4 separate regions of the Homo sapiens genome follow, and all the other regions are reported to be linked to region 4. The links are microRNA targets in miRTarBase. Many come from high-throughput screens and were not tested one by one. Region 4 holds a microRNA gene; each other region holds the end of a gene's coding sequence. Distances are between the middles of the regions.
The links. Region 4 holds the annotated microRNA hsa-miR-3940-5p (GUGGGUUGGGGCGGGCUCUG, at 1,399-1,418, shown strand). A microRNA usually pairs through its seed, bases 2 to 8, with sites in the 3' UTR of a target mRNA and lowers its output. Matches are read on the target gene's strand: a 7mer-m8 pairs with bases 2 to 8, a 7mer-A1 pairs with bases 2 to 7 and ends in A, and an 8mer does both.

Region 1: miRTarBase lists TXNIP as a target of hsa-miR-3940-5p. Seed matches in the 3' UTR shown: 7mer-A1 at 1,868-1,874.
Region 2: miRTarBase lists MED7 as a target of hsa-miR-3940-5p. The part of its 3' UTR that is shown has no 7-base or 8-base seed match.
Region 3: miRTarBase lists PPM1N as a target of hsa-miR-3940-5p. Seed matches in the 3' UTR shown: 7mer-A1 at 2,774-2,780 and 7mer-A1 at 2,635-2,641.

Annotation. Positions count from the first base shown.
Region 1 is chr1:145,990,974-145,994,472 of GRCh38, forward strand. It overlaps TXNIP (thioredoxin interacting protein), which reads right to left. Exons shown (of 8, transcript NM_006472.6): 6 at 3,308-3,464; 7 at 3,043-3,194; 8 at 1,462-2,913. The coding sequence ends at 2,878. Among named protein-coding and RNA genes, the nearest start is that of TXNIP, 3.9 kb to the right of the region's middle. RefSeq lists an enhancer at 1,735-1,814.
Region 2 is chr5:157,136,313-157,139,312 of GRCh38, reverse strand. It overlaps MED7 (mediator complex subunit 7), which reads left to right. Exons shown (of 2, transcript NM_004270.5): 2 at 1-1,889. The coding sequence ends at 583. Among named protein-coding and RNA genes, the nearest start is that of MED7, 5.1 kb to the left of the region's middle.
Region 3 is chr19:45,501,483-45,504,981 of GRCh38, reverse strand. It overlaps PPM1N (protein phosphatase, Mg2+/Mn2+ dependent 1N (putative)), which reads right to left. Exons shown (of 5, transcript NM_001080401.2): 5 at 2,469-2,965. The coding sequence ends at 2,897. It overlaps LOC107985314 (a long non-coding RNA gene), which reads left to right. Exons shown (of 2, transcript XR_007067269.1): 2 at 3,435-3,499. Among named protein-coding and RNA genes, the nearest start is that of VASP, 4.2 kb to the left of the region's middle.
Region 4 is chr19:6,414,888-6,417,887 of GRCh38, reverse strand. It overlaps MIR3940 (microRNA 3940), which reads left to right and starts at 1,377; the gene lies at 1,377-1,478. It overlaps KHSRP (KH-type splicing regulatory protein), which reads left to right. Exons shown (of 19, transcript NM_001366299.1): 11 at 47-149; 12 at 801-901; 13 at 1,006-1,150; 14 at 1,238-1,398; 15 at 1,481-1,590; 16 at 1,992-2,080; 17 at 2,154-2,354; 18 at 2,431-2,508; 19 at 2,587-3,000. The coding sequence ends at 2,864.

The sequences.
Region 1 (3,499 bases), not on the chromosome of region 4:
ACCCCACACTGATTTCATGTAGAATTTCCAGGAGCCTGTTATTTGGAATTAGTTTGTGGAAGTCCTCAGAAAAATCAATTCCCAAATAAGGACCAGGACCAGATCTGTGCAAATATTTAAATTGGCCATCCCAGGGTTTCTCCACCTGTCGGTTCTTTAGGAATGAAAATCACTGCTGGGCGCCATGGCTCACACCTGTAATCCCAGCACTTTAGGAGGCTGAGGCGGGTGAATCACGGGAAGTCAGGAGTTCGAGACCAGCCTGGCCAACATGGTGAAACCCCGTCTCTACTAAAAATACAAAAATTAGCTGAGTGTGGTGGCTCATGCCTGTAATCCCAACTACTCAAGAGTCTGAGGTAGCAGAATCGCTTGAACCTGGGAGGCGGACATTGTATTAAGCCAAGATTGGGCCACTGCACTCTAGCCTGGGAGACAGAGCAAGACTCTATCTCAAAAAAAAGAAAGAAAGAAAGAAAGAAAGAAAATCACACCAATTAAACATGGGATTGTGGTATTACTCTACTACTATTACCCTACAAGGAATAGGAACCATCAAATCATCTAAGGGATGAGGGTGAAGTTGAATAGTTAGCAAACATTTACTGAGTTATGTGCTTGGTTAGGAACTGTGAAAATAAAAAATGGTTAGCTGCCTCCAAAGAATTTAATACTCATAACTCTATAACCTCTTAAGTCCTGAAGTTATCCTTGTTAGTATATAAATCAAGTTTACATTGGGAAGAAACCCTATGATAAAACCATATTGTAAAAAGGGGATCTTCAGCTGAGTGTGGTGTCTCACGCCTGTATTCCCAACTCTTTGGGAGGCCAGGGCCAGCAGATCACTTGAGCCCAGAAGTTTGAGGCCAACCTGGACAACATGGCAAAACCCGAACTCTACAAATAATCAAAAAATTAGCTGAGCGTAGAAAAAACAAACACATACACACACACACACGCACACACAATTAACTGAACGTAGTTGTGTATGCCTGTAGCCCAGCTATGTGGGAGGCGGAGATGGGAAGATCACTTGAGCCCAGGAAATCAAGGCTGCAGTGAGCTAAGATCATACTACACTCCAGCCTGGGTGAGTGAGACTGTCTCAAAAAAAGGAACCGCCACTCTTTTCTTTCAAATGCCCTCATAAACATCATCTCCCTGTATTTCAAGAACCCATGAACTCCAAAACTGAAGGAATTTAGTAATGATTACCTATGGATTTGGAAAACTAGTTTAGACAACCGGAAAATCCCAGTATAGTTGTTCAGTGAATCTGAAACATGCCTCAAACGGTTTCCCTCTTCACCTTCTAGCCCCCACTCTGCCGACATTCCTTAGGGTCCATAGGGAGTGTTTTCTCCACAAGGTTTTCATTAGTGTGGATTGTTAAGTAGAGGAAAACTCCTTTAGACACACCTTCTTTCCAAAAACTTTTCCAAAGCCATCTCACAGACATTTTTTTTTCCATTAAAAAAACTTTATTTTCATTTTTTACAAAGAATATCCCCATCTGGGGTAAAAATATATCTGGTTAAGTACAAAATATAGTCTTTACCATACAAAAAGATACATAATACAAAAACATGAAACCAACCATCTTCAGCCCACACTTTCTGGCTGTAATAACTCTCAGAAAAGGGTGGAGCTCAGTGCTCTGACACAGGACAGTGAACAAAGTGCTATGGCTGAGAGTGACTGACCAAGTGCTGGCAGCTGCAGTGAGGGGCCAATATCCCTATCTCCTAACACAGGGCAGGAAGGGGGTTCAAAGGGCTTTTATGAAGACCTGCCCTCTAGTTTCTCATGGCAGTATTTGGAGGTTCTGATCACAGGGTTGGGCATCTTGATCAAGAGTTCCTCCTTGGGTTTGAAGTCACAGTGGGCAAGGCTGACAGCAGCAACCCTTTCACATGATTTAAGCGTTAGAATTATATAATTCTGTACATTGGGGCAATCTCAAAAGTAGTAAAATTTTTTTTGTCTTTTGGCTTAACCCTAGAGACACAGTAGACCAGTTTCAGCTTACATTTAAGATGGCAGAAGGGGAGAACAAAAAATTTGACAGGAATTAAAGTGCTAAGAACATCACCTTAGAATCAATTCCAAGGACTTACATGAAGAGAAAACCATCCTCCCATATGAAAATATTTGCAGTAGGAGAACACAGTGCAATAGGCTCCAAAAATGGCTTTTAAGACCTTTGGTGGGGCAGTTACTACTGCTTTAAAAGCCAGGTTAAAGTATACTCTAAGCAAAGATGACCGTAGAGCAGCTAGCTTCCTTTTTTATAATCACAGGGAAAGCTCTCTCCATTGTCCATCAAATCAGCTCTAGAAGGTTTTTCTTTTTTTTCTACAAGTGCACAAAGGGGAAACACTGATTTTAAGAACCTCCTTTTCCCAAAGTTTTGGCCACAATTTCCCTTTTCATCTTCCTAGTTTGTTAAATTGGCTCTTCTCCACATGATACGTAAGTTCAAGGTCCAAAGTTCCTATCACAATTTACAAAAAGCCTCCAAAAAACCTTGAAAAGCTTACGCCAGGAGGCCATTTTTACCTGACCCGAAACTATCGAAAAGGCCTCAATTTTCAAGGAGATCTGAGAAAATGGATGGGCCTGAGTTTTTCTAGTTATTTTTAAACCCATCCAACAAACACCCCTGTATCACAACATGGGCGCTGGCTGAGGATGAGTCCGCATCCTTTAAGGCCCAGGAGATTGCCTGCTGACCACCTCCTACATTAGGAAGTCAGAGGCTAAGGTGGACCCACACTCCATTGCAGAGACTGTTGAGTCTCTGAAAAAGTGAGTGTCCAGGAAGAGAGACAAAAAGAAACAAGTAGGTAAAGCTGCTTCTTTTCTTCCACATGCTCACTGCACATTGTTGTTGAGGATGCAGGGATCCACCTAAAGAAAGAAACAGACTATTTCAGTTCAGGTAAGAACAAAAAGAACAAACCAGTTTAGCAATCCGTCTAAGTCAACTTCTTATAGAAAGCTTAGGACAAATTTAACAGTAAAGATGACAATCCTCACCTCAGTATAAGTCGGTGGTGGCATGAACTTGAACTCAGGGGCATACATAAAGATAGGGCTGTCTTGAGAGCCATCCATGTCATCTAGCAGAGGAGTGGTTGGGCTCTCCAATCGGTGATCTTCAGGAATGACATCCATATAGCAGGGAGGAGCTAGAAAAGAAAATATGGCCACATAAGAATCCTGCCCAAGAAATGCTGGACCATCACAATTTTACAAACCCAGGTAGACCAGAAACAAAGAAAAGACATTAGGTCTGGCTCACCTTCTGGGGTATCAGGGATGTTCAGATCTACCCAACTCATCTCAGAGCTGGTTCGGCTGGCCATGCTGGATGTTCTGCTGCTTAGACCTGATCTGCTGCCAATTACCAGGGGCAGGTCAAGGATGACCTTCTTGGATCCAGGAACGCTAACATAGATCTAGAAAGGAAGATGGCAGTTTATTACACCAGAGG
Region 2 (3,000 bases), not on the chromosome of region 4:
CAGTTACATGATGTTTGGCAATCAGTTCCAATGTGATGATCTTATCATCCGCCCTTTGGAAAGTCAGGGCATCGAACGGCTTCATCCTATGCAGTTTGATCACAAGAAAGAACTGAGAAAACTTAATATGTCTATCCTTATTAATTTCTTGGACCTTTTAGATATTTTAATAAGGAGCCCTGGGAGTATAAAACGAGAAGAGAAACTAGAAGATCTTAAGCTGCTTTTTGTACACGTGCATCATCTTATAAATGAATACCGACCCCACCAAGCAAGAGAGACCTTGAGAGTCATGATGGAGGTCCAGAAACGTCAACGGCTTGAAACAGCTGAGAGATTTCAAAAGCACCTGGAACGAGTAATTGAAATGATTCAGAATTGCTTGGCTTCTTTGCCTGATGATTTGCCTCATTCAGAAGCAGGAATGAGAGTAAAAACTGAACCAATGGATGCTGATGATAGCAACAATTGTACTGGACAGAATGAACATCAAAGAGAAAATTCAGGTCATAGGAGAGATCAGATTATAGAGAAAGATGCTGCCTTGTGTGTCCTAATTGATGAGATGAATGAAAGACCATGAAAGATGTTTCTTTTTCTTTTTTTCCTTTTGATAATAGCATCATATATTAGTTCATTTTCTTTTGGACAGTCTTAAGAGAAGTTTCACTAAAAATGTAAACAGCTTTAATCTTGACTCCAAATTTTTCAATTATGAGATGTCATAGGCAGTAATTTCGCTGTATAACAAGCATAGACAAATGAGTGTCCCTGCACTAAGAAGAATCACTTTAAAAAGCAAAGTGTTAGCTGCTGTTGTATGGGACATTCCTATGTTTTAGAGTTGCAGTAAAACTTTGATGATAACCTCAATAATAGCAAAGTTTTCGTCTTTGAAAAGGGGATTTAGCATTTGCTTTAAGAATGATAGATAAATGGATATTAAGCTCTCTACATGTAAAACTATGAAATCTTTAGACTTATTCCATTAAAAATTTTGCTTAAGCTCCAAAAAGTAGCATAACATGTTGATAGAGAGGAGCCCAGTAGAGTTATAAAATAGAAACTTCATTTTTTCCTCATGACTGCTTCTGTAAACCCACTAGCTCAGTCTTTTCTCCCTATCCTGAATGGACTCTTGCAGGGAAGTCCCATAAATTGTTGTTTTTTTTTCCAGTCACTCAGGTAATAAGTCCTTTGGTCACTTTAAGTTACAGACATTAATTTTAGTAATTAAGATGTCTGTGTCATTAGCTATACATTTTCTTTAAAGCTAAGCTCAGACTTGTTTAAGTCCACAATGGGAAAGGGGTTTGATGGCAGAGACTGCTAGGTGTCTACCAAAGATTCTTGCTCTTTGAAGATATGTTGTCAAGATGTGGCAATCCAGCCAGGGACATTTCCCTACTCCCAGCATCTCTGTGAGAACATATGACTAAGTCGTAGGCGGTGAAATGTGGGCATAGGAATCCAGGCTTGCCCCATAAACATTTCTTGCATGATCCTCCATTCTCTTCTCCCAGCTGCTGGTTGGACGGTCGTATCCAGGATAAGTTTGGAAGCCACCGAAGATGGCAAAGATTGTCAGTCTGGTTCTTTGAATGACCGTGAGGACTAAGTCTTCCTTTCAGTAACTCCACTCTGCCCCTAGCTAATTGGACTTTATATGAGCACTTTCTTCTCTTCTTCCCCCGACTGTCCATCTGCTCTTCCACCAAGGTGTTAGTGGAGAGTTGACCTTGTGTCTGAGGATCTCTGCCTGCCGTTTTCTTAATGTAGGCCCGTGGTTCTTAAAGTGTGTGGTCCTGGACCAGCAGCATTGGTATCACTTGGGGACTTACTAGAAATAAAAGTTTTAGTATAATCCGTAGGTTCAGAAAAATAAAAAATAAATGAGGGTTCTCTGGCTCCATCCCAGACCTTTTGAACCAGAAACTTCTGGGTGTAGGTCCCAGCAAGCTGTATTTTAAGAAGCCTATGTGATTATGATACATGCTCAAGATTAAGAAACATTGAGGCTGGGTGCAGTGGCCCACTCCTGTAATCCCAGCACTTCGGGAGGCTGAGGCTGGTGGATCACCTGAAGTCAGGAGTTCGAGACCAGCCTGACCAACATGGGGAAATCCCATCTCTACTAAAATACAAAATTAGCTGGGCTTGGTGGCGCATGCCTGTAATCCCAGCTACTCGGGAGGCTGAGGCAGGGAGAATCACTTGAATCTGGGAGGCAGAGGTTGTGGTGAGCTGAGATTGCACCATTGCACTCCAGCCTAGGCAACAAGAGCGAAACTCCATCTCAAAAACAAAAAAGAACCATTGAGAGGCAATGCCTTTCCCCAGATGTCTACTTTTTTATTTCTTCCTTAGCCCCTGGTTTCTAGCATAGGGATTTGCTCACTTAAACTTTCATTGGTCCTAGAGCTAGCAAAGTTCACATTAAAATGATTATAAGGGGCCTGGCGCAGTGGCTCATGCCTGTAATCCTAGCACTTTGGGAGGCTGAGGTGGGTGGATTGCTTGAGGTCAGGAGTTTGATACCAGCCTGGCCAACATGGCAAAACCCCGTCTGTACTAAAAATACAAAAATTAGCCGGGCATAGTGGCAGGCGCCTGTAATCCCAGCTACTCGGGAGGCTGAGGCACGAGAATTCCTTGAACCCAAGGGGTGGAGGTTGCAGTGAGCCGAGATCGTGCCACTGCACTCCAGCCTGGGTGACAGCAAAACTCTGTCTAAAATATATATATATATGTGTATGTATGTATATATGTATGACTATAGGTCAGTTCTCTATGAAATGTGCATGCTGTGCTTTCACAGATCCAGGGACTGTAAGTTATCCCTAGGTAGACACTTCTTTATCAGATAGGCAGTTGGTTGGCTAGTCTCAACTTTTGTTTTTTTCTGGTACGTAATGTGTTTGGTATAGACCTTTGGGCCTCAGAGACTCCAGAGGACATAGTTCAGGCTCTCAAGCTTAAATTGAAGTAGGGAGCATCACC
Region 3 (3,499 bases), 39 Mb from region 4:
CAAGACCAGCCTGGCCAACATGGTGAAACCCCGTTTCTACCAAAAACAAAAAATTAACCAGGCATGGTGGCACACACCTGTAATCCCAGCTACTTGGGTGGCTGAGGGGCTGAGGTGGGAGGATCACTTGAACCCCGGAGGCGGAGGTTGCAGTGAGCCAAGATCGTGACACTACACTCCAGCCTGGGAGACAGAGCAAGACTCCTCAAAAAAAATTAAACAAAACAAAACAAAAAAAAGATGAGGGCAGGGAATAGTGAAACCCTTGGACATCCTTTTCTGAAGCACGGAGTGAGCAGCAACTTAAGGAGGTGTGGACTGGGCAAGGTGTGTCATGCCTGTAATCCCAGTGCTTTGGTGCTTTGAGAAGCCAAGGCAGGAGGATCACTTGAGGTCAGGGAGTTTGAGACCAGCCTGGACAACATAGTGAGGCCCCATTTCTCTCTTTTTTTTTTTTTTTTTTTTGAGACAGAGTTTCATTCTTGTTTCCCAGGCTAGAGTTCAATGGCGCAATCTCGGCTCACTGCAACCTCCACCTCCTGGGTTCAAGCGATTCTCCTGCCTCAGCCTCCCAAGTAGCTGGGATTACAGGCATGCACCACCAAGCCCAGCTAATTTTTGCATTTTTTAGTAGAGATGGGGTTTCTCCATGTTGGTCAGGCTGGTCTCGAACTCCTGACCTCAGAAGATCTGCCCACCTGGGCCTCCCAAAGTGGTGGGATTACACGTGTGAGCCACTGCGCCTGGCCGAGACCCCATCTCTAAAAAAAAAAAAAAAATTAACTGGGTGTGGTATCATCCATCTGTGGTCCCAGCTACTTGGGAAGATGAGGTAGGAGGATTGCTTGAGCCCAGGAGTTCGAGGCTGTGGTGAGCGATGATTGCGCCATTATACTCCAGCTTGGGATACAGACTTAGACCTTGTCTCTTAAAAAAACGGGTGGCATGAAGTGTGTAAATGACGTGGGTGACATAGAATGAAAACATCCATTAAGTGGATAAAAAGTTGCCAGAGATACGAAGGGAATGAAAAAAATCAAGGAAACACCCAGAATACCATATATTAATACATGTAAAAAGTCCACTTTAAACTCATTGCAAGGGTTACCAGTGAGATAGAGAGTGTGGGGTTAATTTGGTGGTCACAGAGATCTTTTTTTTTTTTTGTAGAGACAAGGTTTTGCTATGTTGCCCATGCTGGTCTCGAATTCCTGGAATCAAGCTGCCTCGGCCTCCCAAAGTGCTGGGATTACAAGTGTGAGCCACCGCACTTGGGAGGTCTCAAGTCTGTCTTGAAAATGCCAAATTTGGCCGGACCTGGTGGCTGGCTCATGCCTGTAATCCCAACATTTTGGGAGGCCGAGTTGGGTGGATCACCTAAGGTCAGGAGTTCGAGACCAGCCTGACTAACATGGTGAAACCCTGTCTGTAGTAAATACAAAAAGTTAGCCTGGTGTGGTGGCACGTGCCTGTAATCCCAGCTACTTGGGAGGCTGAGGCAGGAGAATCACTTGAACCCAGGAGGCGGAGGTTGCAGTGAGCCGAGATTGCACCATTGCACTCCAGCCTGGGCAACAAGAGTGAAAACTCTGTCTCAAAAAAAAAAAAAAAAAGGGGGGAAATTTTATCCTGCTTCTAAGCCTTCATACTGATTGTTCCCTCTGCCTTAGAACACTCTTTGGGGTATTTGCGGAGCTGACTCTTCTCTGTCAGGTCTCTGCTCAACTGTCCCCTCCTCAGAGACCTTTCCTGATTCCCCTGTTTCAAAAGCCACCTCCCCCACCACGGAAAATTGAGTGGCTGAAGTGTGAGAGGGATAGAGAAAGACTTCATTGTATGCCATCTTGCACTCTTTGCATTTCAAACCAAGTGAATTTATTACCCATTCAAAACTACCTGAATTAAATAAATCAAAATTTTAAAAATTGGAAAAAGTAAAAAACCCGAAGTAGCTCCCCTAGTCATTTTCTCAACACATCCTCCTGTTTTATTTTCTTCGTGACACTTGTCAGTGTGCAAGATGACTTCATTTTTTTAGTATTAATTACAGACTGGGCGGGAGAATGGCATGAACCCGGGAGGCGGAGCTTGCAGTGAGCCGAGAGAGCACCCTTGCACTCCAGCCTGGGTGACAGAGCGAGACTCCGTCTCAAAAAAAAAAAAAAAAAAAAAAATTACAGATTGCATCTTGCTATGTTGCCCAGGCTGGTCTCGAACTCTTGGGCTCAAGTGATCCTCCCACCTCAGACTCCCCCAAGTGCTGAGATTACAGATGTGGACCACTGCGCCTGGCGAGATGACTTTATTTATTGATTCCCTTGTTTGCTGCGTCTCCTGACCAAGAGGTCAGCCCCACAGTGGCAAGGATCTTGGTGGGTCAGCCTGGTTCATGACTGTGAGGCTAAGACCTGGCACACAGCAGGTGCCCTGTAACGTATTTGCTAACAGACTAGGCAAAACATGTCTTCTTGTTTTTTACAAGAAAATGTATTTGGAATCACTTATGTAAATAAAGTTTAATAATCAAAACTCTACTTCCCCTCAAAAACAGATGAGTAATAAGAAGGAAAGAGGTTATTGGACTGGGTTATCTCTCAGAATCTGTTCGGCTCTGAATATTTCAAAAACATTTGGTTGGGTTTTTTTGTTTTTTTTTTTTTTTTTTTTTTTTTTCGATTTGGGCTTTTTTCTTTTTGGTCTGGATGTTGGTGGAATTTCCCCATTCGTAAGACTTTTCTGTGAGAGGGAAGTAAGAGAAGAAGAAATAAGCATTTTGGGTTCCTACATTGGCCTTCCTTCCTTCCGCTGGTACATGTAGTTGGGGAAAGGGTCGGTTTTCTTCTTTAGTTCTGTTGAGGCCCCAGAGAAGCAAAGGATCCCCAAAGGACAACAGCTGTCAGGCCTCCATGTCCAAGGCTGAGCCCAAATGCGTGGGGTTGGACTTCCCAGCCCCATCCTGCCCCTTCTGTAACACAAAATGTGGGAGAAGGTAATGAGAAATTCTGTCTTGTCTCCTGGCACCTCTTCCTTTTCCTTTGAGGGACCACCATATCCCATCTCACAATCCATTAAGGTTTGAATGGAGTGGACCCCAACCCCAAGTGCGACCCCAGCCTGGCCAATCAGACACAGTGACTGGTCAGCATGTGACCTGGTGTGGCCAATGAGAACCAGCCCCCAAAGACCACTGCTGCAACTCCGGGGAAATTGGCAAACTTTCTCCACTGGGGAGGACAGGCTGCTGGGGTGTAAGCCTGGAGCTGCAAGTCTCCGCTACCTTAGGAGGAGACCCTGAAAGGTAATGAAGCCAACTCGGAGAAAATAAAAAGAGACCATTCATGATGACATCATCTGACAACTAGATGCAGCCATGCCTTAAGACTCTAAACTCTTCAATTACATGGCCCAGTAAATTCCCTGTTTTGTTTTCCCAGCTTGAATTGGGCTTCCATCTCTCACGACTCAAAGAAAACTGACAAATACCTCCTTCAGCTACTGA
Region 4 (3,000 bases):
GCAGCAGAGCTGCGGGCCGAGCTGACGCTGCTGCCTCCCTCCCCAGGTGCCAGTGCCCAGGCATTCTGTTGGCGTGGTCATTGGCCGGAGTGGAGAGATGATCAAGAAGATCCAGAATGATGCTGGCGTGCGGATACAGTTCAAGCAAGGTCAGGGCCTGGCCCACCCTGCCCCTGGCCAGTGCACCCCCACCCTCTTTGGGAGGCAGGCTCTGAGGGAGCTGGGCACCGTGGTCAGCCAGGTGGCCTCCATAGCACCTCACGGCTCTTAGTCCAGCCGTCAGAACATGGCCAGTCCCTTCTCTTCTCTGGGACAGACACATGAGGGCTTTCCACATCCAGGGGGAACGTGTGTTCCTATCCCTATCAGATCTCCTCTTCCTCCCCCTACGATGGAGCCTATCCTGACAGGACAGCCCTGGGTGCCCCGCAGGCTGGATCAGGGCACTCCACCTCAGCTCTGGGCTCTTGCCAGTCCTCAGGCAGTCTCTGAGCTGCCTGCCGTGGGGAGAAGGGCCCCTCTGGCTTTTCAGAGATTTATTGTTCTGTAAAATCTCTCAGTGCTGGGGGTGCTGTGTGCTGGAAGAAGCTTGAGCCACCTCCTGGCTTGGCCGTGGGTTTCCTTCTCTGGGAATGTGGGCCGCCTCCCCCTCAATCCCTGAGCGAGTGGAGGCTGGGAGCGGCGCAGCGCGTCTGAGATCTCAGGCCGGCGTGGTGTCTGCGCTGGAGGCGGCGTTGCAGGGCTCTGGGGTGGGCTCTTCTTTTAAACTTGTGTCTCTGCTCTCTCGGTGCTGGCCTCAGATGACGGGACAGGGCCCGAGAAGATTGCTCATATAATGGGGCCCCCAGACAGGTGCGAGCACGCAGCCCGGATCATCAACGACCTCCTCCAGAGCCTCAGGGTAGGTGGCCCCGGGTGCTGAAGGGGCTGGCAGGGCCTCCAGGGGAGTGCAAGACCAGACCGGCTTCCAGGGTTCATCATCCTCCTCCTCCTCTTGTCTTGCAGAGTGGTCCCCCAGGTCCTCCAGGGGGTCCAGGCATGCCCCCGGGGGGCCGAGGCCGAGGAAGAGGCCAAGGCAATTGGGGTCCCCCTGGCGGGGAGATGACCTTCTCCATCCCCACTCACAAGTGTGGGCTGGTCATCGGCCGAGGTGAGTGTGGCCCCCTGCACCCTATCCCTTGCCCCCTCTTCCCTGGGCCATCACTGCAGGCCACCTTCACCTTCTGCGTTTCTGCAGGTGGCGAGAATGTGAAAGCCATAAACCAGCAGACGGGAGCCTTCGTAGAGATCTCCCGGCAGCTGCCACCCAACGGGGACCCCAACTTCAAGTTGTTCATCATCCGGGGTTCACCCCAGCAGATTGACCACGCCAAGCAGCTTATCGAGGAAAAGATCGAGGTGGGTTGGGGCGGGCTCTGGGGATTTGGTCTCACAGCCCGGATCCCAGCCCACTTACCTTGGTTACTCTCCTTCCTTCTAGGGTCCTCTCTGCCCAGTTGGACCAGGCCCAGGTGGCCCAGGCCCTGCTGGCCCAATGGGGCCCTTCAATCCTGGGCCCTTCAACCAGGGGCCACCCGGGGCTCCCCCACAGTGAGTATCCTCTGCCTCCTGGGTTTTGAGGCCGGGGGCTTACTGAGCTGGCAAGAAGAATAGCAGACCCCATTTCCCTTTCCCTAGAAGTGCAGGCGGGGGGCCTCATCCAGCCCATTTTTGTGGATACCATCAACAGGCCCTCTCCTGTCTACTGGTAGAGCATGTGCCTTTCAGCATCCCTCTGTGCACGTGCAAGTTTCGCGGCTTCTTTCATGTCCTCAAGCTGACGCTGCGCGTCCTTCGAGTTGCTTCTTGTCTAGGCCTTTCCCAGGCGCCCCGTTGAGCCTGGTGGTCTGGGTCTCTGGCGCCTCCCCACTGAAAAACATCCCCACCCCAGGTGGTCCGGCTGCGGCCACCCCCGCACCACTGCTCAAGCATCCCTTTCTTCTCTCCTGCAGTGCCGGGGGGCCCCCTCCTCACCAGTACCCACCCCAGGGCTGGGGCAATACCTACCCCCAGTGGCAGCCGCCTGCTCCTCATGACCCAAGTAAGTGATGGGCCACCTGGCGGAGGGCAGGCCCTGTTCTGTCCCCCCGTCTCACCCGAGGTATCTCCTGCAGGCAAAGCAGCTGCAGCGGCCGCGGACCCCAACGCCGCGTGGGCCGCCTACTACTCACACTACTACCAGCAGCCCCCGGGCCCCGTCCCCGGCCCCGCACCGGCCCCTGCGGCCCCACCGGCTCAGGGTGAGCCCCCTCAGCCCCCACCCACCGGCCAGTCGGACTACACTAAGGCCTGGGAAGAGTATTACAAAAAGATCGGTGAGTCTGCAGGGTGGCGGGGGGGCTCCAGCCCTGCCGGGGGAGTGGTTTCTGACCTGTCTCGGCGCCCGCACAGGCCAGCAGCCCCAGCAGCCCGGAGCACCCCCACAGCAGGACTACACGAAGGCTTGGGAGGAGTACTACAAGAAGCAAGGTGAGTGGCCACCATGCGGGGACAGGGGCAGGGGCAGCCCTCACCCACAGCCTCTCACCTGCCTTTGTCCACCCACAGCGCAAGTGGCCACCGGAGGGGGTCCAGGAGCTCCCCCAGGCTCCCAGCCAGACTACAGTGCCGCCTGGGCGGAATATTACAGACAGCAGGCCGCTTACTACGGACAGACCCCAGGTCCTGGCGGCCCCCAGCCGCCGCCCACGCAGCAGGGACAGCAGCAGGCAAGTGGGAATTGCCACCCTCCTCCTCCTCCTTTCTCCTTCCAACCCCCGGCCACCGTCCATCCTGCCTTAGTGGGTAGCGCCGGAAACCCCTTCCCCTGCGGGGTGTGCCCTTGATGCCTGCAGCGGGGGCCGTGTGGCCGGAGGTCTCCGGGAGTCCCCACGCACCGCCAGGGAAGCATTCGCTGGGTCCAGAGGTTAAACGAAGAGGCCTCCCTGCGCCGGCTGCTTGTTCCTGTGTGCCGCTGTCGTG